Regions from separate parts of the Homo sapiens genome. Here all the other regions are linked to region 1. The links come from fine-mapping of genetic effects on gene expression. A gene starts in region 1. Each other region holds a variant in brackets. All regions are shown on one strand. Distances are between the middles of the regions.

Region 1 (10,035 bases):
AGACATTGGGAGCACAGAGACTTGATTATATCAGTGTTTGGGTCTCATTGAGGCAGGTGGCCTGGGTCTTGTGGGCTGTAGGGAGCCATAGAAGGGTTTTGAACAGAGGAGTGGCATGAACGTTTTATAGACTGGTTTGGTAGACAACTTTGGAAAAGCAAGAGATGGTCCACGTACACACATGAGCCTGGAAGGTGAGGAGAACTCTAATGTGATCTGAATTCCCAAAAGCAGTCCGTTTGGAGGTGATCCCATACAGACTCCTGGGCCTGGTCCAAGACTTAGTGAATAGACTCTGCCCTCGAATAAGGTTTTAACAAGTGCTTCACAAGATTCTGAGCAGCCAGCTTTGGGAAGACTTAAATTGGATGACTGTCCAAAGGTCTCCAGTAGAAGGGCTGGGTCAGTTTACCTCTCTGAGGTTGTTTTATCATCTCTAAAATTGGGGGCATGGGTGAGGTTTGAACTCAGAGCAATGCTGTAAAACAGATATTGTTTTCACCCCCATTTACAGATGAGGAAATGGGCTTGGAGAGGTTTAAACAGCTTACCTCAAACCATGAAGCCAGGAAGTGGCTGAGTCTGAGTTTAACCTTTACATTTATACAGCATTTTATGGGTCTATGACTTTATTCATAGAGTTTTCCATGTCTGGTGTGGATGAGTCTCCTTTGGTTCTTGTGGCCTAGGTAGTTATGCTGAGCCCCATAGATAGTGAAAGATTAGGTCCAGTCCTTTTGCTTGAGTTGCTTACAGTCTGGCCATGGCCAGCATATAAACAGAAAGTTATGGTGCAAAGGGAAACCTGTTCTCCCAGAGGGGCCAAGGGATTGAGAGGAGAGAGCCTCTAGCAACCAGGGTGTTTTAGTCCATTTTGTGCTGCTATAACAATACCACAGACTGGATAACTTATAATGAACAGGTATTTATTGGCTCACAGTTCTGGGTGCTGGGGAATTCAGTGTCAAGGGGCTGGCAACTTGTGAGGGCCTTCTTGCTGTGTCATCCCATGGCAGGTGAGAGGGCAAGAGAGGGCAAGAGGGAGTTGAACTTGCCCTTTTATAAGGGTGTCAATCCACCCATGAGAGTGCAGCCCTCATGGCCTAATAACCTCTTAAAGGTCCCACCTCTTAATACAATGACAAATTTCAGTGTAAGTTTTGGAGGGTACAACCATAGCACAGGCAGTCTGGGAAAGCCTTCTGCCTTGTGAGTTGGATCTTGCAGGATGAATTAGCATTTTGTAGTCAAGGAAGAGAAGGGAGAAATTCATTTCTGGCCAAGGGACCAACCTGGGCAAAGCCATGGAAGCACATGTGTGTTGGGAATGAAAGCATAGGCTGGAGAGGGTGACAGGTTATGGTGGCTGTGGAGGGCGTGGAGGAGATACGGCCAGAAGGGACCCATAGAGTTGGGGGTGGGAGGCTAAGATGGAAACCTCATAGTTTTATTTGAAAGATGAAACTACGGCCAAAAGAAAGGAAATGGACTGGATGGGGCAACAAGACAGCAGGGAGACCATTCAGGGAGCTGCTAAAGTGGTCCAGGTAAGAGATAATGATGTTGACTTTGAGAGACATTTAGGAGGCATAAGTGCAGTAAGCTGGATCTGGAGAATAATGTAAAGATGGGACGCCTTGAAGGTGTCACTCAGATTTCTGGCTTAATGAATGAGTAATGCCACGAATGGACATAGGACATTACAGAAGGAGCAATACAGTTGGGAAATACTTAACATGTCAATAACCATTTACTGAGCACTGAGAAGGTGCAAACTACTATGCCAAGCACTTTATACACATTTAGGTGATTTAATACTCATAGCAACCCTAGGAGTGGGTACTATTATTGTCTTTTTTTAAAAACAAAGAGTGTAAATAGCTTTTCTGAGATAAGCAGACAAGAGTCAGGATTTGAACCCATGGCTATCTGATTTCTCAGTCTATGCTCCTGAGCCCCTCAGCAATTCTGCTTGAGGGAACTGCTAGCCATGACTCAAGACTCAGCTCAAGGCTTGGTTCCTCTAGGGAGCCTTCCCTGAATCTTCCTGGCTGGGCTGAAGATCCTCCTCTGTGCTGCGTGTGTATACTTCTGTCATCACATTTCTTACATTCTATTGACATTTTGTAGACCCATCTGTTTCTTTAGTCAGAGAACTCTGGAGGCAGGTTGGTCCCAGTCATTTTTGCATCCCCATTGCCTAGCACATGATTGGCTGACCAAATGCCAGTTACTCTGGACAGTTCTGTTCCCTTCTCCTCTCCACATATTCAGTTAGTGAGCAGGTTCTGCTAACAACGGTCTCCTAAATATTTATTTGTACTGTTGGGGCTCAGAAAGCGATACCCCAAAGACTGGCGCTTTGACATGCTGAGAGGCCTTCGAAGCTGCCTCAGAATCAAGGTCCCTCTAACCTTCTCTCCCAAGTATAGGGAGGCACTCTCTCTAGAATTTCCTAATCTGATCGAGAAAACGTCTTTCCAAAAGAAACAAAATTGCCTTCCTCCCCTCTCCGAAATCTCATCTAGCTCAGAAAAGAAGACTGAGGAAGGCAACTACGCCTGGATGGATTTTTCACAAGATGATGCCTGTTTCTCGGGCTCATTCAAATTCTAAAGAGAATCATTTACAAGTTAATTTCTGTCCATTTTTTCGCCCTAAGAATCACTTGCTGCCCTCAGAAGAATTGTCTATATTCTCCATCTCTCCCCTTCCCCTATGAAAAAGAGTGTATACGCTTCTGTACCCCATTGGGTTATTGGGTAATCATTCTCCTGTGACCCTTCCCTTCCCACCCCCTCGCCTCCCCGCCCCGTGCTATGCACGTTAAAATAAAATTTTGTATGTCTTTTCTCCTATTAATCTGCCTTTTGTCAGTTGATTTTCAGTGAACCTTGGCCCCTACAATACTGTTCCCTTTTCTCCATCTTCACTGCCAGAGCTTAGCTTTGAGCTGTTTGAGATAATAGAGGAAGGGTGTCTAATGTGATAAGCAGTCTATGTATGAGGCTTCCTCTGGAGGTGACCCTTAAGCTTGAAAATTGTGCCAGAGCACAATCTGGCATAGTAAAGAAAGGTGGGAAGGGCACTACATGGCCAGGCACGGTGGCTCATGCCTGTAATCCCAGCACTTTGGGAGGCTGAGGCGGGCGGATTGCTTGAGCTCAGGAGTTCGAGACCAGCCCTAGCAACATGGTGAAACCCAGTCTCTACAAAAAGTACAAAAATTAGCCAGGCCTGGTGGTGTGCATCTGTGGTCCCAGCTACTCGGAAGGCTGAAGTGGGAGGATCACTTGAGCCCAGGAGGTTGAGGCTGCAGTGAGCTATGATTGTGCCACTGCACTCTAGCCTGGGCAACAGAGCGAGAGTCCTGTTAAAAAAAAAAAAAAAAGCGGCCAGGCGCAGTGGCTCACGCCTGTAATCCCAGCACTTTGGGAGGCCGATGCGGGCAGATCACCTGAGGTCGGGAGTTCGAGACCAGCTTCCCCAACATGGAGAAACCCCTTCTCTATTAAAAATACAAAATTAGCCGGGCGTGGTGGTGCATGCCTGTGATCCCAGCTACTCAGGAGGCTGAGGCAGGGGAATCACTTGAACCTGGGAGGCGGAGGTTGCGGTGAGCCGAGATCACGCCATTGCACTCCAGCCCAGGCAACAAGAGTGAAATTGAACAACAACAACAAAAAAGGTGGGAAGGTAGATGAAAAAGCATCAATAAGGCACTGAGGTGTGAAACAGTGTGGTCTGCCGGGTTTAGTATGTGCGAGCAAAATAAATATGCAGGCTGAGATTAGTGGGATGAGGGTGGGAAGGGCCTTGTGGGAGCATTAACAAGCTTGAGCTTTGGGACTTTTCTGTATATGATAAAATTGATGTCTGTATAGGGTACAGTGGGGACACAGAGGAGGAAGTGAATACTTGTACCCAAGAGGTCATGTAAGACTTAGGTTTTACTATATTTGAATTATTTTTACACTAACAATAGCCACATTTATTTCCCTGCTGGCTGTGTGCCTGCCACAGTACTTTACAAATATTATCTCTTCCAACCCTCACACCATCCTTGCGAAATGGGTGTTATTACCTCTACACAGAAGGGGAAGGGAGGCTCAGACAGGTTAATAATGTTCCCAAGGTCACTAGAAAGCTAGCCCGGATCCCAAGAGGTCTTAAAGCACTAAAATATACTCTTCTAAGAAGAGCTTCTTGAGGTCAGGGATCATGTCTTTTGTTTTTGCGTGCCCAGACCTAGGTCTTAGAAGACGCCTAATAAACATCAGTTGAAAAAAATGACTGGATGATCTTTCACTTTTTCCACGCAGAAAACACGTGGCGACATCACTGAGAAACCTCCCGGCCAACAGAGGGCGCGACGTCCATTTCAGCGCAGTGGGGCCCAGTTGCGGACGCCTAGCTTCCTTCCGTCCTTTGGCTGAAGTTCAGCCAATCCCTGCGCTCCGAGAGAGCCGGCGGCCAGTGGGCAGGGTCACAGGGCAAGGTCCCGCGGGCCGCTGGGTGCGGCGACTTCCGTGCTCCCGGCGAGCGGGCGGAGAGCGGGGGCCGCACTGGGGAGTGTGGGCTGGGCCGCAGGTGAGCGCGCGGTCCCGGCGAGCAGGTCGGGTCAGCCCAGGCCAGTAACCTCTGAGTTACGGGAGGAGTGATCGCTAGGGTCCACCCCGGTCCCGGCCAGATCTGCCAGCTCCCCTCTCTGGCGGGTGTTCTGGTGCCAAGTCTGGGAGCCCAGGTAGCCCTCCGCAGACAGGGCTTCTCGGCACCTCAATGAGGACGGACGTTGATGAGGCCATGAATGAGGTGGGCTAGGGACAGGGGACCGGGAGACTCACAGAAGGGAGAAGGGTAGCCATTTGGATGGACCTTCGCCTTACTTGCGCTCCCATTCCTGGACTGCGCTCTAGTGACTGTCAGGGCTAATTCTTCCGCCTTCTCAGGCCTCCTGTGTCCTTGTTAGTAGTTCTTGAATTTGGGACTACGGCTTCTGGCCTCGTTGGGCCTCCGGGCCCTCGCACTGGGGCAGGTTTCCCAGCAGCCCAGTTGACCTTTACCGGATGCTTTTGGCAGACGTCCTCCATGCCGGGCTGGAAATATGCGTCACAGTGTTTTTCAGACACTTTTGCCTCTTTCATTGTGATACCCTGCCTGGGGACGACTATGATGGAGTCTTTAGGTTTTTGTAATCAGCAAAGGCATCTGTTATGCTCCTGCCACCTTTTGGGGGAGAGTGGGTGGAGGATGTTGTGATTTTACACTAGGGAGTTTGGGCTGTCATTCATTCGTTCAGCAGACCTTTTTTGGGCACTCTGCCAGGCAGGGTAGGAGAGGTGCCTGGATGGATAGGGCATAATTGGGCCAGACAGACACGGTTCTTAGCCTTTTGGAGCTTAAAGTGTCTTGAGAAACGCAGACAGGGTAAGCCAGCATCGTGCCTGACACAGAGTAAGTGGTTATAAGTGTCGAATAAAGGAATGAATTGACTTATTTGGGAATGATTAGAATGTGAGCAGGACGGTAGCGAGAGACTTTATGCTGCATGTGAGAGATAGTTGTGAACTCATGCGCGATATGTTTTAAGACAGGTTTGGAAATCTGAACGGACAGTTGCTATTTAGGGAAGCATTTACTTATACAGAGGACTTGCTTTAAAGGTGGAAGTAAAATGGAGAAGTATTAGGTTTGGGATTCTTCAGAGGTGCCTCTTTTAACTATTACTATGTCTCTGAATTTCATAAATCCCTGAGTACAATCTCAGAGTTTGGGAAAAGGAAAGCTCTTCTAGGTAATGAAATGCCAGGCTGATGGGAAAAAACTGTAGGAAGCTCTCCCTAAGTCCAGGGTTTGGACAGAAACCGTATACCTCTGCAGTGTGTTCTTCCCACTAGAAAGAGTGTAGGCTTTGAAATTGGAGAGGCCTGGGTTCAAAATCAGTGGCTCTATCACTTCTAGTGATCTTGGATAAGTTAACATAATGTCTGTGAGCCTTTGTGGCCTTCACAAGAGTCTGGGCTAATAATTCCTACATCATAGAGGTGTTATGAGGATCAAATGATGATTAGTGTGTAAATTGTCATCATAGTGCCTGGTGCTGAGACAATAAGCGGGGGAGTCTTGGAGATGCTGCAATTTTTTTTTTTTTTTTAAATTTCATGATGCTGCCTTATTGCAGGGGTCCTTAACCCCCTGGGCCACAGACCAGTGGTGGTCTTCAGCCCATTAGAAACTGGGCTGCACAGCAGGAGGTGAGCGGTGGGCAAGCTGGCAAGCATTACCGCCTGAGCTCCACCTTCTGATAGATCAGCAGCGGCATTAGATTCTCACAGGAGTGCAAACTCTATTGTGAACTGCGCATGTGAGGGATCTACGTTGTGTGCCCCTTATGAGAATCTAATGCCTGATGATCTGAGCTGGAACAGTTTCATCCCGAAACCATCCCTCTCCAACCCCCATCTGTGGAAAAATTGTCTTCCACGAAACTGGTCCCTGGTGCCAAATATAGATTGGGGACCGCTGCCTTATAGTGTTACGTCTAGAGAACATTGGGATTCCTTCAAAGAGAATTGGAACCAAAGAGAGAGGGGGAGAATCATCTTATCCTTGGTGAGGTTTCGATTGTTCACTTTAGATCAGAGATAGTAGTGTTGGAGAAATACCTACAGGGGCATAAACAGAAAGATCTTTTAGTGGATACTTTTGGGCAAGTCTCTTAACCCTCTGATAGTGGGTTATGTATCTACCTCACGTGGTGGACATGAGGATTAAGAGAGTGAGTGTATATGAAGCACCTAGCCCAAGGCCTGGCATGTAAGTGCTCAATAAATGGTAGCTGTGTTATTATAACTGTGAATGATCTTTGATAATTGATAATGGTAATAATCATTTGAGATGGAATTGGCCATTAGAGTGATCCAATTTGTGTGTTTTTACATTACTTTGGTATTGCCCTACTTCAATTCAGGAGGCCCTGAGGCCATTCCACTCCGCTCCCCGCCCCACCCCACCCCACCCCACCCCCCGGGCTTGTACAGTGATTTTTCACAGAAAATCTTCAGGTTCTGCGGTATCCAGAGTATGTATAATGATTTGTGATATTTTCAGGAGCTTTTTATGTAAATATGAAGGTATGGGTTTGGTTGAAGATAGGATTTTTTTTTTTTTCTTGAGACGGAGTTTCGTTCTGCCGCCCAGGCTGGAGTGCAGTGGCTTGATCTTAGCTCACTGCAACCTCCGCCTCCCAGGTTCAAGTGATTCTCCTGCCTCAGCCTCCTGAGTAATGGGGATTACAAGCCTCCCAAAGTTCTGGAATTACAGGTGTGAGCCACCGTCTTTAGCCAAGATAGGATATTTTGAAAATGGTTTAGTCAGCAGATTTGTAAAGTATAGGTTTGTTCCATTGTTAGAAAAGCCAGGTTCAGAACAGGATAAAACCATTATCTATTTACCTAAAATCCAGAATAATTAGGTAATGCATTATGTATTTGACTGTTTAAATATGCTCCTTATGCTTTACATGAGGAAAAGGAACGACTTTTCATATTGTGAAACCAGGAGATTCATCGTAGATTGTGTTTCATGGGGAAAAGGTGGCCGGCTGTGCTCATGGAGAAATTTCATAGAGCAGAGAAAGGCATCTTTTTCCCTTCTTGAAATGTTGGCAGACTAGGTCCTGGGGTCAACAATAGGCTTGAAGCTCTATTAGGTAAGGCTCAGAGGTCCCCTTGTGGGGAACATTGTCATATATTGGTGCACACTTGTCAAAGAGTACGGTCCGTAAAATGGAGATCCTTCCTTCTTCCCTAACAATGGAATCTTTTGAAATTTCCTAGATTATTTCAGGGATCCACCTCTCGCATTGCTCTGCACGGGGGTGGGTGCTCAGTAAATTGTGCCAGGCTGGCCAGGTGTGGTGGCTCACGCCTGTAATTCCAGCACTTTGGGAGGCTGAGGTGGGTGAATCACGAGGTCAGGAGTTCAAGACCAGCCTGACCAACATGGTGAAACCCTGTCTCTACTAAAAAAATACAGAAATTAGCTGTAATCCCAGCTACTTGGGAGGCTGAGGCAGATAATTGCTTGAACCTGGGAGGTGGAGGGTGCGGTGAGCTGAGATCGTGCCACTGCACTCCAGCCTGGGCGACAGAGCAAGACTCCGTCTCAAAAAAAAAAAAAAATTGTGCCAGGCTGCCTGGTAAGTGGAGAGCTCTAGTGGGTTGCTCTTATTTGGTGGGAGATGATGCTGGGTTCTCTAATGCTGCCTTGTGCTTTTCCGCAGATGTCATGTGGCCTGTGTTTTGGACCGTGGTTCGTACCTATGCTCCTTATGTCACATTCCCTGTTGCCTTCGTGGTCGGGGCTGTGGGTTACCACCTGGAATGGTTCATCAGGGGAAAGGACCCCCAGCCCGTGGAGGAGGAAAAGAGCATCTCAGAGCGCCGGGAGGATCGCAAGCTGGATGAGCTTCTAGGCAAGGACCACACGCAGGTGGTGAGCCTTAAGGACAAGCTAGAATTTGCCCCGAAAGCTGTGCTGAACAGAAACCGCCCAGAGAAGAATTAATGGAGGACACAGGGCCCTATGGTCCTACTGTGGGTGGTGACTTGTCCTGCTACCATGTTGACAGAGCCCCAGAACCCACATCTAATTGGCTTTGTTGCTTATTCTGGCCCTTCCCACACCACACAGCCACACAAATACTGGCTGCTCCTTGATGGCCAGGCAGACCCAGCAGCAGCCGAGGGGCCAGTGAAGAGGAAGGCCGCATCTGTTGTGTGGTGGCCACAAGCACTCAGGCATCTGAGTTTACTGGTGCACTGCTGGGAGGAGAGTTATGAGATGAACATTGGCTGTCAATCTCTGTGGGCAGGCGGTTTGGCCTCTAGTGGGAATGGCTGGGATTTGGGCGTTGCCTTTAGGAGGGATACCTGCATGTCTAGTTCCAGTCTGCACTGGAAAGAATTCAAATATGCACCTGGCTCCCTTCACTATTTTGCCCTATCCTTTGTGCTCATTCTTACTGAAATCTGTCTTGTCAGCTCAGGAATGGGATTCCCCCAGGAAGGAAAGCACTTTTCTGTTCTGGGAAGCCCAGACTGTTCACTTTGGGGCAGGGACGAACATGTGCCTCGTGAATTTGCTTGAAAACAGTCACCATCTTCTACCCCCATCACTGTATAGTGAAAAACCTGATTAAAGTGGTATCTGAGAACCATAATGATCGAATCTTATCATCCAGGTGGTATTTGGGGGTCTTCTTAGGAGTTAGGCAAGTACAGGCATTTTAGAGCAGGATAACATTGGTATTAAAGGGTGCCAAGGAGCCCTGGAAACTGCTTTACTAGTGCGGTTGCACTGAACCCTGGAGGCACAGATTCCCAGGAACCTTTTTACCATTATTACAATTGGCTGCAGCACCTTCAAGTCTAAATGGAGGTAGACCTCACATACACACACATAGACGCCTTTCCCTATAAAAGTATATACGCACATTCAAGAAAATTTGGTAGGGATTTTAAAAAGGTCACCCATGTTCCCAGCTCGTTAATAACAACCGTTAACATTTTGTTGTCTTTTACTAATTCTCTGCATAGGTTTTAGAGATAGTTATCATTACTGTACATTTAATTTTATATACTTTTCTCACTATTATCATTTTCCCATTTTACATGGTCATCATAATTGGTTTTTTGGAGACAGGGTCTCACTCTGTCACACAGGCTGGAGTGCAGTACAATTACGGCTCAGTGCAACCTTGACCTCCTGGGCTCAAGTGATCCTCTCACTTCAGCTCCTCAAGTAGATGGGACTACAGGAGTATGCCACCATGCCCAGCTAATTTTTTTATTTTTTTGTAGAACCAGGTCTCACTATGTTGCCCAGGCTAGTCTCAAACTCCTGGGCTCAAGTGATCCTCCGGCCTTGGCCTGTAGTTTCTTTTTTCTTTTTTTTTGGAGATGGACTCTCATTCTGTCACCCGGGCTGGAGTGCAGTGGCGTGATCTTGGCTGACTGCAACTTCTGCCTCCTG
Region 2 (10,035 bases), 62 kb after region 1:
ACCAGATACTAAAACTGTATTACATGCAGGGTGTGGTGGCTCATGCCTGTAATCCCAGCACTTTGGGAGGCCGAGATGGGTGATTGCTTGAGCTCAGTTGTTCGAGACCAGCCTGGGCAGCATAGTGAGACCCCCGTCTCCACACAAAAATACAAAAATTAGCCATGCATAGTGGTGTGTGCCTGTGGTTCCAGCTACTGGGGAGGTTGAGGTGGGAGGATGGCTTGAGTACAGGAGGTGGAGACTGCAGTGAGCCAAGATCGCACCACTGCACTCCAGCCTGGGCAACAGAGCTAGATCCTATCTCGAAACCAAACCAAACCAAACCAAACCAAACCAAACCAAACCAAACCAAACCAAACCAAACCAAACCAAACCAAACCAAACCAAACCAAACCAAACCAAACCAAACCAAACCAAACCAAACCAAACCAAACCAAACCAAACCAAACCAAACCAAACCAAACCAAACCAAACCAAACCAAACCAAACCAAACCAAACCAAACCAAACCAAACCAAACCAAACCCCGAAAAGATTGTGTTAGAAAGCTACACTAATGAAAAGAGTGGTAGTATCACATAAATTGACAGATTAATGGAACAGAATTATAGGTAGTCTATAAAATGTAGTCTGTTACATATAGTATAGTGAAGCTGTTATCACAAATTAGTATAGGAAGGATTATCCAATAAGTGCTGCCAAAACCATTGATTATTTGGGGGGAAAAGTTAGCACTTCACCTTATATGCTAAAATTAGGTTGTTTGTTCATGCTTTGTCTTTTGTTCAATAATTATTTTTCTCCTATTATGTTCAAGCCAGGTTAAAGTATAAAATTAAAAATAATATTGAAAAGGGGATAACAGTGTAAGCCTAAAGTTACTGGAAAGGAAAAAAGTCCATAAATTTGACTACATAGAAATTAAAAATATCTGCAGACAAAGGAACAAAATAATACAGAAAAATTTTTATAACATATGCCAGATGAAGGGTTGATATCCTCTACCTATAAAGAGTTTATACAAGTTGATCAGAAAATAGTAAAACCTGATAGAAAAATGGGCAAAAAACATTCATAGAACAAACATAAGTGCTGAAGAAGTATACGTTAAAAAATCTACCCTCACTAGCCAGGCATGGTGGCTTATGCCTGTAATCCCAGCACTTTGGGAGGCCGAGGCGGGTGGATTGCTTGAGTCCAGGAGTTTGAGACCAGCCTAGGCTACATGGTGAAACCCCATCTCTACAAGAAAATGCAAAAATTAGCCCGGCATGGTGGCACGCACCTGTAATCCCAGCTACTAGGGATGCTGAGGCACAAGAATTGCTTAAGCCTGGGAGATGGAGGTTGTAGTGAGTTGAGATTGTACCACGGCACTCCAGTCTGGGAAACAGAGTAAGACCTGCCACACACACACACACACATAGAAGTCTACACTCACTAGTAATCAGGCCTCCCTCATGAAACGTGATACCATTTTTTCCCTGTTTAATAATTAATAATAGGCAAAGCAATTTAAAAATTACAATAATGCTTGTATGCATACCTTGAAATGAGCACTTTCATACAATGCTATTGAACGAATAAGTAATTTTTTTTTCTGGAAAGCAGCTTGGCAGTCTGTATCAAAAACAACCCTGAACAACAAATATATCAAGCCCCTTCCTCCTTCTTCAGAGCCTTGAAAGTGCTATTCCGTCTACCTGGAATGCTCTTCCCCATCTCTTCCTAGCTCATTCCTTCTCACGTTTTAGGCTTTCTGAAGCCCACCTCCTGCAGGCAGGCTTCTATGACCTCAGGCTAGATCAGATTCTCTCTCTCTTTTTTTTTTTCAAAGCCTGATCCATCAGCCAGTGTTTTGGAAGCCAATTTTGGGGAGAAGGCAGAAGGACCCACTGTTCAGTATGTAAACTTCCACTTAATTCCTCTGTTTTATTTATGGTGCTCCTACCCTCAATTATGCCTGGCATTTCTCGATTTTTTTTTTTTTTTTTTTTTGAGACAGGGTCTCGCTCTGTTACCCAGGCTGGAGTGCGAGTAGCTGGGAATACAGGTGCACACCACCACACCTGGCTAGTTTTTCTATTTTTAGTGGAGATGGGGTTTCGCCATGTTGGCCAGGCTGGTCTCGAACTCCTGACCTCAAGACATCCGCCCGCCTCCGCCTCCCGCCTGGGATTACAGGCGTGAGCCACTGCACCTGGCTGCATTTCTCTGTTTTATCCTCTCCAGAGAATAAACCTCCACCTCTTCACAGAGTTGGGAAGATGTGGTCACCTAGCTGCTCAGTGCAGGGATGGAATCCCCAGGCCGAGGTGCTTTCAATGAACTCTCCTGTTTTCAGCTCCACCCCAATTCCCACTCAGAGGCAGTTTGTGCTTTCATTTCTTGTAATTTGTGCTTTTCTGTGTTTCTGAGTCACCCACAATGAATCACTTTCACAATCAGATAAAAGCCCCTAAATTTTCTTTATTTAAGATTTCCTACTTTGTGACCCAGTAATTTTACTTCTTGGAATATCTTTTTCTTTTAAGGAAATAGAAATTTGGAAAACATTTAGGTACAGACATCTGCATCACAGTACCATTTATAGTAGAGGATGATTAGTTGCAAACATCCTAAAAATCCAATATCAGGGTCATGGTTTAAGTAGGCACTGATAAAGCCTTTAAGTGGTATTTCCAAAAATATGTTCTTAACGACATGGGAAAAAACTAATGATTTATCATAAAATGAAAAAAGCATAATATAAAATTGTAGGTATATCTTTACTAAGATTTTATTTTAAAATATGCATGGAAGAAGGCTGGAGGGAATTACTTCTGAATATTAACAGTTGTTGCCTCTGGATGGTAGGATCTCATTCACTGTCTACAATGATCATGCATTATCTTTATAATTCAAAAGAATTTATATATATGTAAAGGAGGAGAAAATAAAAAAAATTATAATCTTAGGTTGCATTAAGAGAGGTAGAAGTTTTGGGGCAAGAGAGGCAATAATCTGGATTCGGACCAACTGGAGTGTCGTATCCAGCATACAGGGAGGGTGGCATATGTTAAGAGGAAATTAGGCCAGGCATGGTGGCTCACGCCTGTAATCCCAGCACTTTGGGAGGCCGAGGCAGGTGGATCACCTGAGGTCAGGAGTTTGAGACCAGCCTAGTCAACATGGTGAAACCCCATCTCTACTAAAAATACAAAAATTAGCCAGGCGTGGTGGTTCACACCTGTAATCCTAGCTACTGGGGAGGCTGAGGCACAAGAATTGCTTGAACCCAGGAGGCAGAGATTACAGTGAGCCAAGATCCTGCCACTGCACTCCAGCCTGGGCAACAGAGGGAGACTTCGTCTCAAAAAAAAAAAAAAAAAAAAAAAAAGAGGAAAGTAAACAAATTGCAGGTTGGCCAGAGACTTCTGGAAATCAGGATTATCTGGAGGAATAGGAGGAGAGCAGGCTCAGGCTGAACCTGGTGGCTGTCTGTATGTGGCTGCAGTACTGTTTGGGAAGGACAGAACTGGGTGTCCTGTGGCTCTGGGATCAGAGCCAAGTCTGGAGAGAGATTCTTAAAGGTGGAGAGAGATGTTCTGACAATCCTGTGATGGATACCTCTTCCTGCAAACGTCAATAGTCATGCTGAGGTTGGTGTGAAAACGAAGAATCCCCAGTCAAGGAACTGGAGGTGATAGAACCATGAGGCTGGCAAGCCAGTGGCCAGTGAGCCAGCATGTTAGACTGGGAAGAAGTTTTGACATCACCCAGCTTGACAGCCTTGTTTATGTGCAGCCCGTGATGTTCTCATGCTCCCATCCGTCATAGATAAGATGACCTTGGGTTATGCAAAATTCCCAGTGCACTCCACATAACCCCATCCCTGTCTTTCCTACTTAGGAAGGCAATGTGAATTTAAGCGACTGGAATTAATCTTATTGTAGAAACAACCTTGACTTTTTTCTGATTCATGCGAAATAGCACATCACTCATGAGTTTCAGATCAATGATCAGTGACAGGTTACCACACGCAACGCTCCTCATACCTAATTGTCACATACGTGTTTCTCATCCAACCCTTTCATTTCACAATGGGGAAATTGAGGCCTAGAGAAGGGAAAGAGCCATAGTCAAGTGCGTATGAGAGGTGTGAGGTAGGAGCCAAGTCTCCTAACTCCAAACGATGGCTCTTTCTCTAACTGAGAGCCACTAGCTGTCAACTTAGATTTTGGTTGGTGGCAGCAAGGGATAGGCTGGTGAGAGGAAGAAGGAAACAAAGGAAAAGAAAGGTGTGAACCTGC[C/T]GTGTTTCATCCTAGTGACATCACCAAGGAGATGCCTGCGTCCAACAAACCTAGCATTCTCCAGAGCCCCGTGCCTGACCAGTGCTTGGAGGTGAGGTGGGGCCACGAGGGTGGTGGTATGGGTTGAATGGTGCCTCCTGCCAGATATATTGAAGTTTTAACCCCTAATGCCTCAGAATGTAACCTTATGTGGAAATAAGGTCTTTTCAGAGGTAATCAAGTTAGATCAAAGTCATTAGGGTGGGTCCTAATCCAATATGAGTGATGTCCTTATAAAGAGGGGAAATTTAGACACAGAGACACAGGTAAAGGGAGAACACCAGGTGAAGATGAAGGCAGAGATGGGAGTGATGCGTCTAAAAGCCAAGGAGTGCCAAAGATTGCCAGCAAAACACCAGAGCTGGGAGAGAGGCCTGGAACAGTCTCCCTCACAGCCCTCGGAAGGAACCAGCCCTTCGGATATCTCGATCTCAGACTTCTGGCCTTCAGAACTGAGAATCAGTTTCTGTTGCTTAAGCCGTGCAGTCTGTGGTACTTTGGTACAGTAGCCTTGGCAAGGGAATACAGGTGGGATGGGGCTTACAGCCACTCTTCTCTCCATAAAGTCTTCACCATACCCCCAACCCAAATGGTGTGATCCCAGCCCCATGACACTGTCCTCACTCTTAAACCCCCAGCCCATATGTGCTTGTGTTTGTGTGGCCGCCAGTCTAGGACCCAACTTGTCTTGCCAAAGGTCCAAGTTCCTGAGCCCCAGCCTGACCCCGGCTCTGACACCAAGCTCAGAGTGGGTGAGCTTTGAGGGAGGGGAAGGATGCCATTTCTGCTCACTGAAACCTTTCTTCTCCTACCTTTCCAAAGTAGGAAAGGTTGGGGATAACAGAAACACCAAACCAGGGCTCTGAAGCCCCTCAGGTAATGCTGGCTCTAACGCTGGCTTCTAACCTGCAGCCTCTGGCCTCTCACCCTGGCTGGAGGAGAATCTCTTAGACAGGGACCTCAACTTCCAGTGGTCATGGACTTCCAGTATGTGAACAGCCTCCTTTTTGAGGCTTTCAGGATTGAGCCCAGCCTCACTCAATCAAGCAGTGGTTCAGATCCCTGAGAGGTAGAGGTCATTGCCGGAGACTAGCTGGAGAAGTCAGAGAGCGCTTCCTGGAGGAAGAGCCTATGTTAGTCTGGCTGAAAGGTGTGAGCTTAATTTTACTGCATGACTACTGAGCCAGGCACAGTCACATACTTTCACTTATTTGGTTTCCAGTCAGTTGTGAGGCAGGTGATGTTATTTGCATTTTAGAGGTTAGAAAACTGAGACTCAGAGAAGCGAAATGATTGACTCCAGACCACAGCATTTAAATTCAGGGCCCTCTGGTGATAAGCTCATCTCACTCTTCCGCACCAAGCCCTTTTCCAGGGTCCAGTAGTATTTAAAGGATTTGTGGAGTTTCGAAGTGTGGGGGGCAGGGACGCTGCATGCTGACACAGGGGCAGGGTGGGAACATACTGGGTGAATCTGGGAGCCATGAGGAAGCTGGCCTGATCGATTTCAGCGATTCAGAGGGAACAATGGGAACCACAGCTGGAAAAGGAAGAGGGTCGTAATTTATTAGGCTGAGCATTCAGACTCGCTGGGTAAGCAGCGAGTGAGCGAATGAGCTCTGGATGAGGGGTACAGAGCTGGTGTTTTCAACACCCATCCTGATGGGAGAGGGGCCAACTTGCCAACCTGCTGTGAAGGCATTGTGGCTCTCAAGGAGAAGCATGTGGCCACATCAGAGAGACCCCCTTTCCTTCTTCAACCCTAGCCCCAGATGTCCCTGGGAAGGGAGGACAACCAGCTTGCCTCTGAGGGTCACTACCTAGTGCTCTCCCCTACCTGGGTCGCCTCCACATAGGTCAATTCTGCCAGCAGTGGGCCCATCCTCAGCCACGCCTCCTGTATCTAGGTGGCTCATCAGGACCTAAATGCCCCCTCAGCCTGTCAATCCCTCCTCTGACTTTGCACAAACAGTTTTCTCCGCTTGAATGCTCAGTGTTCTCTTTCCCTCCCCAGTGAACTCCTAGTCAAGACCCAGTTCAATTGTTCATTTTGTTTCTGCAGCCTTTGTGGCTCATTGGCAAGATTCAGTCTCTTCCACTTCTGTACATTGCCATTGTCCTCACTGAGGTCTGGGTGCATGGAGAGCAGATATGAAGCAAATCCTTCAGTTGCTTCTCCTGGTGGGCAGACTAGAAAGGGCCAAGGTAGGAAGGACTAGTGACCTAAACCTCCCTTCCCAAATACCAAGGATGAGGATGAGGTGGGATGAGTGCAGGGCCCATCTGAACTGGACTGCGAAGGGCTTGGCTGGCAGGCACGCTTGGAGAGCAAACCATCCAGTAAGGAAGCACTTTGCAGGGGGCAGTGTGGCCAGGGCGACGATGGGCATGGGGGAGGGAGGGCAAGGACGTTTATGCTTTGACCACTGATTAATGCGCTGGAGCAGTGGGGATGAAAAGAAGATAGTGTCTGAGGCATTTCAAAAGGCAGAGCATTTAGAAATCAGGGCTGTTGGAGGCAGAAGGTATGAGTTTGAGGGTTCAAGGTGTTGGCTGGAATCGGGGGTTATAGAGACCAAAGAGATTATACAGGACCAAGAAGTAAAGGAAGCCTGGGCAAAATAACTCTATCCCCCAACCCCCAGCACATCATGATAGCATCAATACACACCTACTTGTGATCAAGTCCTGTTTATTTCAGAAGCTTGAACAGTAGAACTAGGAAGGAGTGATGAAAACAAGGCACCAGTCCCCTTGACAGGGCCAAATCCGGCACAAGCTCTGTCTGTGCGATCAAGGCTGACCCAGCAGCCTCAATCCGCCTTTTCCTGTGAGGAGAGGGTTTGAGGACAACCTGCGCACAGGTGACTGTTCCATAGGGTGAGGTTGGGGTAAGTTGGCTCTGGGTTCCTCTGGATCAGCTGCAAAAGGCCAGAGGGCCCCCAGTACCCTTGGCCAAGAGCATTCCATGCTGACTCTGTCTGTGCTCAGGCAAAGCCACATTCTGGAGAGGAAGCCGTAGTGCCTGGTGGGCACCAGGAAGGCCTCAGGTGTTCAAGAACAACTTGCAATGAGGCTCCATGGCCAGCAAGCACCTGCTTCCCCAGCCCAGTCATCTCTGCAGAGCCTTCCAGGAGGGGGCAGGGGGCATCCCAGGCAGCCAGACTTCTCAGGACCCCTCTGTTGGGTGACATAAGCCACAGGCCTCTATACATACTGCTTCTTAGAAGCAGAGCTGCTGGGACGACTTGGGGGTTTTTGGCCATTCTGAGGGGGTGGGTCCAGGAAGAGAGGGGGCCTGGAAGACGCCAGCCTCTCCTCTGTGGTCAGGTTGGCCCAGTTCTGCTCACTGGATGAGAGCCCATTGTAGGTGGGGCATGGTGGGGATGAGGGCCCCTGGCCCACGGGGAGGTAGAAGAAGACCTGGTCCGTGTAAGGGTCTGAGGAGGTGCCCTGGGTCGGGGGTGCGTCTTGGCCTTGCCGTGCCCTCATCCCCCGGCTGAGGCAGCGACACAGCAGGTGCACCAACTCCAGCAGGTTAAGCACCAGGGAGATGAGTCCAACCACCAACATGAAGATGATGAAGATGGTCTTCTCCGTGGGGCGAGAGACAAAGCAGTCCACGAGGTAGGGGCAGGGTGCTCGCTGGCACACAAACACGGGCTCCATGGTCCAGCCGTACAGGCGCCACTGGCCATAGAGGAAGCCTGCCTCTAGCACACTCTTGCAGAGCACACTGGCGACATAGGTGCCCATCAGTGCTCCGCGGATGCGCAGGCGACCATCTTCTGCCACCGAGATCTTGGCCATCTGACGCTCTACGGCCGCCAGCGCCCGCTCCACCTGTGGGTCCTTGGCCGGCAGTGCCCGCAGCTCCCCCTCCTTCTGCCGCAGCCGCTCTTCTCGCCGAGACAGGTAAATGACATGGCCCAGGTAGACCAGGGTGGGTGTGCTGACGAAGAGGAACTGCAGCACCCAGTAGCGGATGTGGGAGATGGGGAAGGCCTGGTCATAGCAGACGTTGGTGCAGCCTGGCTGGGCCGTGTTACACTCGAAATCTGATTGCTCGTCACCCCACACTGACTCGCCGGCCAGGCCCAGGATGAGGATGCGGAAGATGAAGAGCACCGTCAGCCAGATCTTACCCACCACGGTCGAGTGCTCCTGGACCTGGTCCAGCAACTTCTCCAGGAAGCCCCAGTCACCCATGGCTCCCGGGCCTCCGTCTGCAAGGAGACAGAGCACGTCAGTGTGTCAGCATGGCATCCTTCTCGTTCGCCCAGCAACAAGCCTGCAGGGAGGTCTGCCACGCCCGTTCTACCTACAAAGAAACCCAGGCTCAGGAAGGGGAAGGACTGGCCTGGAGGCTCCCACTCAGCAGTGCAGGCAGGACCCAACCCAGATTTTTGGATGATGGCTGCCCACCTCTTTGTATGGTCTCATTCTGCTTTGGCTAAGGTCCCTGCCTAATCAGACATCTATGTCCCTCTTGTCCCCGAGCCACTGCCCCAGGATGGACACAGGCCAAGGAAATCTGGGTGGAGTTGAGGCTCCTTTGCCTATGGGAACAGAATTTGAGGAACTTATCCAAAGTTGTGCAGCTGGGCTAAGCCCTTCCTCCCTTTTGCCCAAGGCTGGCTACCCCCAGACAGTGGGAGCTAGTGATGATGGTAGAGGTGTTATCTTCTGCTTCTTAGGGGGCTCAAAGCCTCAGGTCCCTGCTCCCCGCCTCATATCTTACCCAGCTGGCTTCACTCTAATCTTTGAGCCTGCAGGGGCTGGGTAGTGGAAGGGGTTTTAGGAGCTGAAGGCAGCATCATCCTTTAGCTCCACCGGTCAGCAATAATGACCACCTGCCACTTGAGGAGGGACATTTGGTCCTGTCTTCTTCCTCCACCTCCACTCCCACCCCCTTCCACCTCCAAAGCTGATGCTGGCAAATTCTAGACTCTTGAAAGGAATTGTCATTGCAGGGTGAGGCACAGGCCACAAAGTTCCCAAGGGGGAGGTGCCTCTTCCCAAGTGCAAAGCTGTTTAGAGCCAGGCTCTGGAAGCGGCCCTGGGTTCAAATCTTGCCTTTTAGTAACTGCGGCCCCTTGGATAAGGAACAACCTCTGGGCCCCTCAGTCTCCTCCACGATAGAGTGGAAACAATAGTATTCCTCCCGCCTCGGGTTGTTACAAGGATTCCATGGAAAGAGGGTGGGAGCCTGGCCAAGGCCACCTGGGTGAGCGCGGCTCTGTCGCGGCGGGCGTTCCGCAGCAACCCCCGTCCCGGCATCGGAGGACCCAAGACTCCTCCCGGCCTCCCGCGAGCAGGTGGCGCCCCTGGTCCCTTCCTAGCCCCCGACTCACCGCCTGCCTGCCGGGCGGCCCAGGTGGAGGTGGGGACGATGGCCGGAGTGACGCCCGCGGGAGCCCTGCTGGACCGCACGAGCGGCGGGGGCGCCTTAAATAGCGCAGAGGGGCGGGGTGGGGGCAGGAAACGCGACGGGGAGGGCGGCGGGCGCTGGAGAGAGGGCGGGGGCGGGGACTGGGAGGTGCAGACTCCCTAAACCCACTCCGGGGAGGTGGGCCTGTGTGATTTGCGGTGGGGAGGGGCAAGAGGGGCTGACCTACCCTTCCTCTCCTCTGTTCTCTCTCCACCAGGTATTCCAGACAGTAAACTCTCCTGTCGTTTCTTTGGCCAGGGAAGGAGAGTTC
Region 3 (10,035 bases), 130 kb after region 1:
ATATATACACACATATAAATGTATGTAAATAGATATATATTTATATATTTATTTTCAACAGTGCTTGAGAAGTAATATAAATATATAGTAACTATAAATATTTGATTACTGTTATCAAATAATCAGAGAACAGGGGTAGCTGTTTGCTCATTATTTGATAGTAACAGTAATAGAATATTTACTCAGCGCTCTTGTTATGAGCTGGGTACTGTGCTAATTGCTTTACATGAATTGACTCTTTTAAGCTCCTTAACAGCCCTATGAGGTGGGCACCATCATCATCTCTACTTCCCAGGTGGGGAGACTGAGGCACAGAGATGGTGGGTAACTTGCCCATTATCACACAGCCAGTAGATAGTGTGACTGGGATTTGAACCCTGGTCCAGCCACCAAGCTCAAGCCACCTGTTAGAGGGCAAATGAGGGAAGTTCTGCCTCCGAGGGCTGGTCCCTGAACTGGCATGCTCCCAGAGGTGAAGGCCATGCTGTCTGTGTCTGTTTTCTTTTTTCTTCTTCTTTTTTTTTCTTTTCTTTTCTTTTCTTTTTTTGAGACTGAGTGTCACTCTGTCACCCAGGCTGGAGTGCAGTGGTGTGATTTCAGCTCACTGCAACCTCTGCCTCTGGGGTTCAAGCAATTCTCCTGCCTCAGCCTCCCAAGCAACTGGGATTACCAATGCCCACCACCACACCCGGGTAATTTTTGTATTTTTAGTAGAGACAGGGTTTCACCATGTTGGCCAGACTGGTCTCAAATTCCTGACCTCAAGTGATCCACCCGCCTTGGCCTCCCAAAGTGCTGGAATTACAGGTGTGAGTCACCGCGCTTGGCCCATGCAGCCTGTTTTCGTTAGAACCACTGTTAAATAGTCTCTGAGAACTTCTTCGACTTCCGGTGTCCTGTTCAGGAGCTGTACCCGCATTATCTCATTGACTCCTTCCTCAGACCCCGCAAGGGCAGTATTGCTATCTTTACAAAGCCCGAGCTCAGGAGGCAGCGCCCTTCCCTGGGACGTGCCTGGGCCACTCTCCTGCTACCCTGGCTGAGCAGAAGGGTGAGATTTCCCCATAAACATTAGGAGAACATTAGGAGATGCATCAAGCTGCCCTAGAAACTAGGCTCTAGTTAAGTGCTTGAAAAGTAATTATAAACTCCAGAATATCTTTCAGCCGAGCAGGTGGCTGGAAAATTAGAAATCTATTTCTGAGACACCTTCTGCTTTCCAGAAAGGCTGAGGTTATGTTTCAGGCAGGTCAAGTGCTGGTGGCCTCTGTTGGGGGGGTGGGTGTGTGTGTGTGTGCACGACTGCATGTGCATGCGGGGTGCAGCACCGAGGGGCCAAGGAGAGAGGAGACGCCAGTCTGGGGGTGTAGCTGTCATGCCTGCCCTTCCCTGGCACTCTGTGCAGTGTGGAGGCGGCAGGCGCCTCCTCTCTGGTGTCACCCCTTGAGAGCTGGGTTGCTAGGACACCGGAGCCGAGGAGATGCCAGTTGATTTGCCAAACAATTTTTCTTCCAATTAGGAATAATTAGACAAAGGGAGAAAGTGTGTGCTTTGATGGTGGCAAGAGAGGCTTGGAGCTTGGGGACCCCGAGGAGCTGTTAGGGTTTCGTGGCTGAAGATGGCTAGGAGTGTTGCCCCACCCCTGGGAAGGAGCCTCTTTCTGGCCCGGTGGCACCCAGCCTGGGGGAGAGAGGAGGAGATCTCACATTTATTAAGTGTCTACTACATGTGTGCAGCCCTCTTTCATACTCACGATAAGCCAGGAAGAGGGACTAGGATCGCCTATGGTCTCTTCACTGCTTGCAGCCACACTGGGCTCCCTCAGTTCCCAAACTTCTTGGGATTCTTGCACACGCTCTTCTGTCTGCCCAGAATGCTTGCTCTTCTCTATGCGGCTGGCTCCTTCTGACCCTCCAGGTGACCGCTGTTATTATCCACAATAGGCCCTCACCCAGCTTTCTCCCCAAAGCCCCTGGCTACCTCCCTGCGTGGTGCTCATTACGGCTTGCGGTTATTTTATTTGTCTGGTCACTTGTTTTCTTGTCTGTCTTCCTAGCTAGAACATCACATTCGTGAAGACAGTGTGTGGCACATGAAAAGCTCTCAGTAAATATTTGTTGAATGAATGAATGAATGAAGATCTCTGTTCAAAAGGAAGCGGAGGCTTAGCGAATCTGAAGTTCTTCCTTATGGTCTGTCCCTCAGTAAGGGGTAGAGGGATAGAGCCAGGCCGTCACCTCGTGTCCCCCTCGCTTTCAAGCTGGCTCTCTTCCCATGGCATCACGCTGCCTGCAACCTCTGTTTGCCTGCAAACAGACAGGCGCGGCCTCTGTCTGTTTCCCTCTCTCCAAAGAGGCCTGCATCAAGGGAAGGCTGCTGGTCCTCCAAGTGCCAGCAATGGAGCAGTGCAGGGTAGTAGTCCCTGGAGTCTCCCTGTCTGGGTTCAAATTCCAGATCTGGGCTGGGTGCAGTGGCTCACGCCTGTAATCCTAGCACTTTGGGAGGCTGAGGTGGGGGAATCACGAGGTCAGGGTATCGAGACCATCCTGGCCAACATGGCGAAACCCCGTCTCTACTAAAAATACAAAAATTAGCTGGGTGCAGTGGCGCACGCTTGTAATCCCAGCTGTTTGGGAGGCTGAGGCTGGAGAATCGCTTGAACCCAGGAGGCAGAGGTTGCAGTGAGCTGAGACCATGCCACTGCATTCCAGCCTGGGAAACAAAGTGAGATTCCATCTAAAAAAAAAAAATCCAGCTCTGCCTGGCTGGGCCTCAGTGCTCCTGGCTATAATGTGGAATGAAAACAGAACCCATTTCTCAAGGGTCTTGTGAGGATATAATGAGATAATACACGTGGAATGTTTAGAGCAGTGCCTGGCACATAGGAAGTGCCTCCTATGATATAAGTTATAGGAAAAACTGGGGTGACAGACAGCTCTGATCCTTCCTGCTTGTGTCAGTGACACATAGTGGGCCAGATGATGCAGCCCTTTAGGTGCCTGATATAAATTATTCATCTTGGCATCCGGGGCCCCAAATTCTTAAGAGCTCCACTATTAGGAAGCTGAGAGAAGCTAGCCAATGTGAGAGAGCCCAGTACAGTGTCTGGCACATAGTAGGTGTTCAGTAAAATGGCAGTTGAACCACTCTTGAAATAGCCGGGCCGAAAGTCCAACTGACTGTCGAAACTGTCCACCTGGGTGTGCCATTGGTCCCTCAAATGCAAGAATAAAAATAGCTACTGAATTTCATGTACTTTTAACTATTTGAAATTATCCTATGTAACTCATTTACTACCTGTCTCTTCCCACTAGAATGAAAGCTCCAAGAAAGAGGGATTTGTCTCCTTTTTCATTGCTCTTTTCTCCATGCCCAGAGCAGTGCCTGGCTCATAGCAGACCTTCAAGAAATATTTGTTGAGTTAATTGCCCTCATGTCTGTTATGGATCCTGTATTAGATTCCTATTGTTGTAACCAATTGCCACAAATGTTATGATGTAAAACAGTAACATATTTAATATCCTACAGTTCTGGAGGTGAGAAGTCTAAAATGGGCCACAGTTTGTGTTCATTTTGGAGGCTCTGGGAGATCATCTGTTTCCTTGCCTTTTCTATCTTCTAGAGGCTTCCCGCAATCCTTGGATTGTGGTTCCGCATCACTCCGACCTCTGATTCAATCATCACATCTCCTCTGACTCTGGCCCTCCAGCCTCCCTCTCAGGCCACTCAGAGAATCCAGTAGAAACTCCTCATCTGAAGATCCTTAGCTCAATCATACCTGCAAAGTCTCTTTTGCCCTATAAGGTAACAGTCACAAATTCTAGGAATTAAAATGGGAACATCTTTGGGGGGCTGTGATCCTGTCTACTGCAGGCCTGATACCCCATCTGTTCTTTCTGATGATTTATTCTCTTTCTGTCTACATTCTTCTTTCTCCCCTATCCCACTGCCCCACACCCCTGGCCCCCCCAGGCTCCACAACATCAAGGGTTTGCCTCCATGGACAGACCATGGTTTCTGTTCCCAACAGCTCTTCACTCTGAACTCTGGGAGTGATAAGGGGATTCTAAGACTTCTTAACATTTAATATTTGGGAGTTCTGGTACACTGTAGTGTTGTTATGCACTGAAATGCAGGCAATTTTTGTAGTACCAGCATTTTTTCAGTATTTTAGAAACATCTGAATCACAGCTGCCTGAAGTCTACTCAGAGAGGGATATGCTGCACTAAGATTTCCAATTAAACAAAGGTGTATTCATGTATAAGGCATGCTGAGCACCTCCTGGCCCTCATTGAGACCCTTCCAAGTCCTCTTAATGTTGTTTTAATTCCCTCACCCTGGGCGATAGTGAAGATGCAGAGCTGGATGTCTTCCCCCTGTTTCAGCCACTGTGTTCCCTTTAGAGCCACTTTGGGTCTCTGATGGAGTCTACCTGGGATCAGGTGGTGGAGAGGACTTCAAAGAAAATGGGAAGAAGGTTTGGTTAGGGGACTTAGGAGAGAAGAGAGTGGAAAAGGTATAGGGAGGTTCCCCAGACCCAGTTCTCAGCCTTCCCCACTCTCTTCACCAATTTACTTAACCAACCCTCATTAAGAACTTAACATGTGGCTGGGCGTGGTGGCTCACACCTGTCATCCCAGTACTTTGGGAGGCAGAGGTGGGTGGATAACTTGAGGTCAGGAGTGAGGTGGGTGGATCACTTGAGGTCAGGAGTTCAAGACCAGCCTTGCCAACATGGTGAAACCCTGTCTTTACTAAAAATACAAAAATTAGCCGGGCGTGGTGGTGCACACCTGTAATCCCAGCTACTCAGGAGGCTGAGGCAGGAGAATCGCTTGAACCTGGGAGGTGGAGGTTGCAGTGAGCTGAGATTGCACCACTGCACTCTAGCCTGGGTGACAGAGTGAGACTGTCTCCAAAAAAAAAAAAAGAACTTGACATCTTAACATGTGCCAGGCAACTTTCTAAGCACTTTATATATATTAAAGAATTTACTCTTTAAAACAACCCATTGAAGTAGGTATTATCATTAACCCTGCTTCACAGACAAAGGCACAGAGAGGATAAACAACTTGTTCAAGGTCTCACAGTGATGAACGGAGCCGGACTGGACCCAGGCAGTTTGGCATCAGAACCCATGAATTCACCACTGCACGCTGCTGGATTTTGCCTGATAGCTAAATTCCCTCTGATTTCCTCCTCCTTCTTCCTGAGCCAGCTCTGATATGGTTTGGCTGTGTCCCCACTGAAATCTCATCTTGAATTCCCACGTGTTGTGGGAGGCACCTGGTGGGAGGTAACTGAATCATGAGGGCAGGTCTTTCCCGTGCTGTTCTCATGACAGTGAGTAAGTCTCA[T/C]GAGATCTGATGGTTTTAAAAAGCAAAGTTTCCCTGCACAAGCTGTCTTCTCTCGTCTGCCACCATGTGAGATGGGTCTTTCACCTTCTGCCATGATTGTGAGGCCTCCCCAGCCACATGGAACCGTAAGTCCAATAAACCTCTTTCTTTTGTAAATTGCCCAGTCTTGGATATGTCTTTATCAGCAGTGTGAGAACGGACCAATACACGCTACTTCCTCATGGGCCCTGCTCCTTCCTCCCTGATAATTTATTCTGGCCAGGACCTTGCCCTCCATCATTATACCTGGAGAGACTGAAGTCAGAAAGATGGAGGAAGCTTCGTTATTTATCCTGGCCCATCTCAGATAAAGCAGCATTTGAGGACCCCGTGTGGGTTCAGTGGTGATCATAGATTGCTTTTTAAAAAAATTAGTATTTTAGTATCATTTTAACGATTTATGGAAATACAGCAATCGGTTGTTTTGCTCCAGAGCTGCAGCCACTAGGTCAGAATCAGAGCCTAGTTAATCATGAGGCCATGGGGCAGTGACCTGGAGCACCCGCCTATATGGAATTCCACACATCTTTGGAATAAATTGCGAACTAACTGAGGTTTCCTCACCAGACCCTGTATGTGGCAAGTAGAATGTCAATGAGTCCTACTTCTGCAACACCCTCAAAGGGAACACTGCACAACATCTTGGACATAGGTTATTTCTTTTACTCCGAATAGCAGTTCTATGAAGTATGCATTACGATGTGCATTTTATAGATGAGAGAATTAGGCTCAAGGAGGCTCAGCAATCTGTCCAAAGTCACAGCTAGTAAAAGGCAGAGCTGGAGTGTCACCGTGGAGTTGGCTGTGTCCAGGGCTTGTGGTTTTAATGTCCTTCCTCTGCTGCCCAAGGAGATGGATAGTGGGGGAAGAGACGGCCCGCAACAGTTCCTCCTCCCTCTCCATCTCACAGCCAACGTGGGGCAAAAGTGCCTGCAGTGAACTTAGGTCTGTGGCTCATAATAAGTACTTGCCTGTTATGGGGGTGCAAGCATCATGATTGGAAGAAAATGTAAAGGAAAGAAGACAAGAAGTCTTCAAGAAAGAAGTGGCATTTGAATGAGGCCTTTGATACAGGGAAGGGCCTATCTCCATTTATGACTGTGCGCACATGAGTGGGTTCATTCACTTACGATTTCCTGAACCCCTACCATGTGCCAGATCCTATGCTGGGCACAGAGTACACATTAGTGAGTAGAAGAGGCATTGCCCTGCCCTCTGTAAGCTACAGTCTGTGGCAGCACTGTCCAAGGGAAGTTTCTGGGCCGATGGAAATAACTCACGGTGTTCAGTGCAGTAGCCACTGGCCACATGTGGTTACTGCAGGTTTGAAATGTGGCTAGTGTGACAGGAACTGAATTTTAAATTCTTTAAATTAATTTTTTTATTTAACTTCAGTTAATTTAAATCTAAATTTAAATAGTCACACGAGGCCAGTGGCTATGCTATTGGACAGTGCAAGTTTAGAGGGAAAGACAGACAGTAAACATAAAGAAGTGCTTATGGTGATAAGTGCTATGCAGGAGGCAAGATCCAGTGGATGAAAATAATGGGGAGTGTCCTATTTAGATTAAGTAATCAGAGGAGGCCTCTCTGAGGAGGTGACGTTTCAACAGAGACCTAGAAGATGAGTGTGGGCCATAGGAAGAGTCAGGGGCAGAGGGAACAGTGGGAGAGAGGCCCTGAGTAGGAGAGGGGTGGGTATACCTGAGATAATGCGAGGAGGCCAATGGGTGAGAGTGTCGTGGGCAAGGGGAGGGGATGCAGGAGATGAGGGCAGGGCATGAGGGGAGCAGGGTCTGATCACGTAGGCTTGTAGGCTCGGGTAAGGAGCCTGCACTTATGTAAAGTGCAATTGATGTCACAAAAAGGTCTCTTGCTCCGACTGCCACAGATTGTAGGTGGTAACAGTGGAAGCAAGGACCTCAGGGAGGAGCTATAGCAATGGCCTGGGGTTGGGGAGATGGGGGCACGGAGTGGAGTGATGGCTTTGGAGGTGAGGGAACTGACTGAACTCAAGACATACTTTCAAGGCAGACATGGCAGGTAGCCTGGCTGTGGAGGGTGAGGAAGTTGCTCAGGTTTTTGGCCCGAGCCACTGGGCAAATGGTGGAACCATTTTCAGAGAAGAGAAAGTTAAGAACAAAAAAATCAAGAATCCAGGCAGTCGGATGGTCATCCAGATGGTTGCTGAAGTCGGAGGGAAGCTGAGTGTTTATCTGATTATGTTGTGTCTCTGTGGGCTGAGCATGTGAGCACAGTCTGTGTGGGCGAGTATGCATTGATGTTTGTACACATTTTTGCTTTGGGTAAAGTATATGCATCCATTTGGGGTGGGGTGAGTGTGTATGCACATGAAGGTCTGTATTTGGATGACTGTATAGGAATGTCCGCACACATCCATGCAGGTGTGGGTGGGGTCAGTGTGTGTGAGTGTGTACCTCTGTGTGTGTCTGCGTGTGTGGTGAGAATGTCTGTCTCGGGTTCAGGGTGAGCCCAGGCCTGGTTTATCTCTGTGAGACGCGTATAAGTGAGGTTTGTGTGTATGCGTCTGTGTGTATGCAGGGTGAAGGCGTGTGCATGTATGTGGGGTGACTGTGTGCAAGTTGGTGTACATGTGTGGATGCAGCAAGTGCGTATCTTCATGCATGAGGGTGGAGCTGCATGTAGTTGCACACTTCTTCCTACATGAGGCATGAGTGTGTGTGTAGGGTCTGTGTATGCACATCTATTTGGGGGATCATATGCACAGACCTGTGTGTATCTGTCTATGGGGAGAGTGCATGCACATAAGTGTACAGGCATGGAAGGAGGATGTTCCAGGGATGGGTGTGTATGGGGGTGTGTGCCCATTTGTGGGCCTCGAGTGTGCCTGCCTGTCCCCTTTGAAGCTCCTGTGACTGCAAGTCACAGAGGCAGCAGCTTGCAGAGCGTGTTACGTCATGTTTATAGGTCTTTCAACCTTAATGCATTTTAAATTTCCAACCCAAGGTGATCCCAGTGGATGGCAGAACCATTTGTTCCTTGCTCTGATTTAAAAAGAAAGTTTCCAGAGTAGGATCCCTTCTGTCTCCAGCCTGGCAGTCCTGCCTGATTCTTTGACTCTTCAGTGGAAGGAGGACCCAGACGTGGGTCCCCAAACAGTGCAGGTGGATGGGGACATGGGAAGCGAGCTGGGGAGAGAGGCTCTTTGAGTGTGGAGAAAGCGGAGGCGTAGAGGCTGGAGTGGAATGGGAACAAGGAGGTGGGAAGAAATCAGACCCTCTCCTCACTAGGGCAGGCCCAGGACACAAAGGCTTGCAGACCTAGTCTCTTTTGCATACCCTCTTTCTTTCTTGTCTGCTTGAGGATTGGCACTGGGCCTTTTGCTTCTCACACTACACACACTCCATGAGCAACTTGACCTCTAGCTGCTCAAGGCAAACCCTGATACCATAAATCCCTTTCCAAGCTGCCCTGGGCACCTTCTGGGACCCCTCCTGTGTGCCTTTGTCTACCATGAGTGTCCACCACTTTCCTTTCATTATACTCCAAGTCGCTGTGGTGATGTCTCCTGTTCCTATTGAAGCCCAGCATATCAGCTGTGTCCCCCAGACAGAAGGGGCCACAACTCCTGCTTGTCACAATGTGTGCTGAGGGCCTGAGGGGCTGCTCCCAGCTCAGCTGCTTGCAGAGACCCACGGAGGTAGGAGAGAAACAACTCAAACTTCAACTTGTAAAGGTGAGGAGCTGGAGGCCACCTTGTGCCAGATCTCAGGGATGAGGTGGTTGGGGTTGTGCTGCAGCACACACCAGAGCTGGAGTGACACACCAGAGCTGTGCTAGAACCTCCTCTACGGTCATCTTTGGACCAAGTTTGGACCTCAGTTTTCCTTTCCCTTTGATGAGTTTTCCCTCCGTCATGGCAACAGCTCCTGGTGGGCCTGCCTCACCCCTTCTGCAGATGTACTAGAGTCCAAGGATGCACATAGATTGAACCCTGTGTCTCAGACCTCTGCATTCGTTGATACCGCCTCTCTGGTGATCTCACTTGCTAGCCATTTGGGTCTCATTTGAAACAGATATTTATCATAACACATTTTTCTGGCTTTGAGTCAAGCATGGGCTGGGTCTGGGGCTTGGAACTGAATGCCATAGGCGTCTCTTTCTTTACCGTTGGTCAGCTGTAGACTCACAGGATGGACCTCTCACCCCACCAAGGGATAAGCCTACAATCTGGGGTCTCCTTAACATCCTTTCCACCATGGGGCTTCCTGGACCAGGTCTTGTCATGTCCCTTGAACTTACCTTGTAGGAATTCTGTCTATGCCCCAGCTGGTAAGGAGGCAGGAGAATCATCAACAAAGACCTGGGGATGTGTCTTTTGGAAACATAAGGCACCTTAAAGCCAAGCTGATGAACCTTTTTTTTTTTTTTTTTTTTTTTTGACAGAGTCTCGCTCTGTCGCCCAGGCTGGAGTGCAGTGGTGCGATCTCGGATCACTGCAACCTCCACCTCCTGGGCTCAAGCTATTCTCCCATCTCAGCCTCCCTAGTAGCTGGAATTACAGTTGTGCATCACCACGCCTGGCTAATTTTTGTATTTTTAGTAGAGACAGGGTTTCGCCATGTTGGCCAAGCTGGTCTCAAACTCCTGGCCTCA

Alleles and levels. Positions count from the first base shown, and alleles are read on the strand shown. Sizes are in standard deviations (SD) of each study's normalised expression. Not every link is listed here.
In carriers of allele C in region 3, the expression in nucleus accumbens of the gene that starts at base 4,518 in region 1 tends to be lower than with T alone (moderate effect, 0.52 SD a copy in GTEx).

What was found. PIP is the estimated chance that this variant, and not a neighbour inherited with it, causes the effect.
Region 2: its variant is fine-mapped to the expression of SMIM12 in testis (GTEx, PIP 0.94).
Region 3: its variant is fine-mapped to the expression of SMIM12 in nucleus accumbens (GTEx, PIP above 0.99). The same link has a PIP of 0.9 or more in caudate and putamen.

Annotation. Positions count from the first base shown.
Region 1 is chr1:34,854,232-34,864,266 of GRCh38, reverse strand. SMIM12 (small integral membrane protein 12) reads left to right here and starts at 4,518. Exons shown (of 2, transcript NM_138428.6): 1 at 4,518-4,590; 2 at 8,285-10,035. The coding sequence starts at 8,290. The coding sequence ends at 8,568. RefSeq lists a silencer at 4,567-4,696 and an enhancer at 9,746-10,035.
Region 2 is chr1:34,792,721-34,802,755 of GRCh38, reverse strand. It overlaps GJA4 (gap junction protein alpha 4), which reads right to left and starts at 9,757. Exons shown (of 2, transcript NM_002060.3): 1 at 9,688-9,757; 2 at 7,009-8,559. The coding sequence starts at 8,542. The coding sequence ends at 7,541. RefSeq lists an enhancer at 2,422-2,471 and a silencer at 8,340-8,494. The variant C/T (reference allele first, on the strand shown) is at 4,295.
Region 3 is chr1:34,728,289-34,738,323 of GRCh38, reverse strand. No RefSeq gene overlaps it. Among named protein-coding and RNA genes, the nearest start is that of GJB5, 22 kb to the left of the region's middle. The variant T/C (reference allele first, on the strand shown) is at 5,359.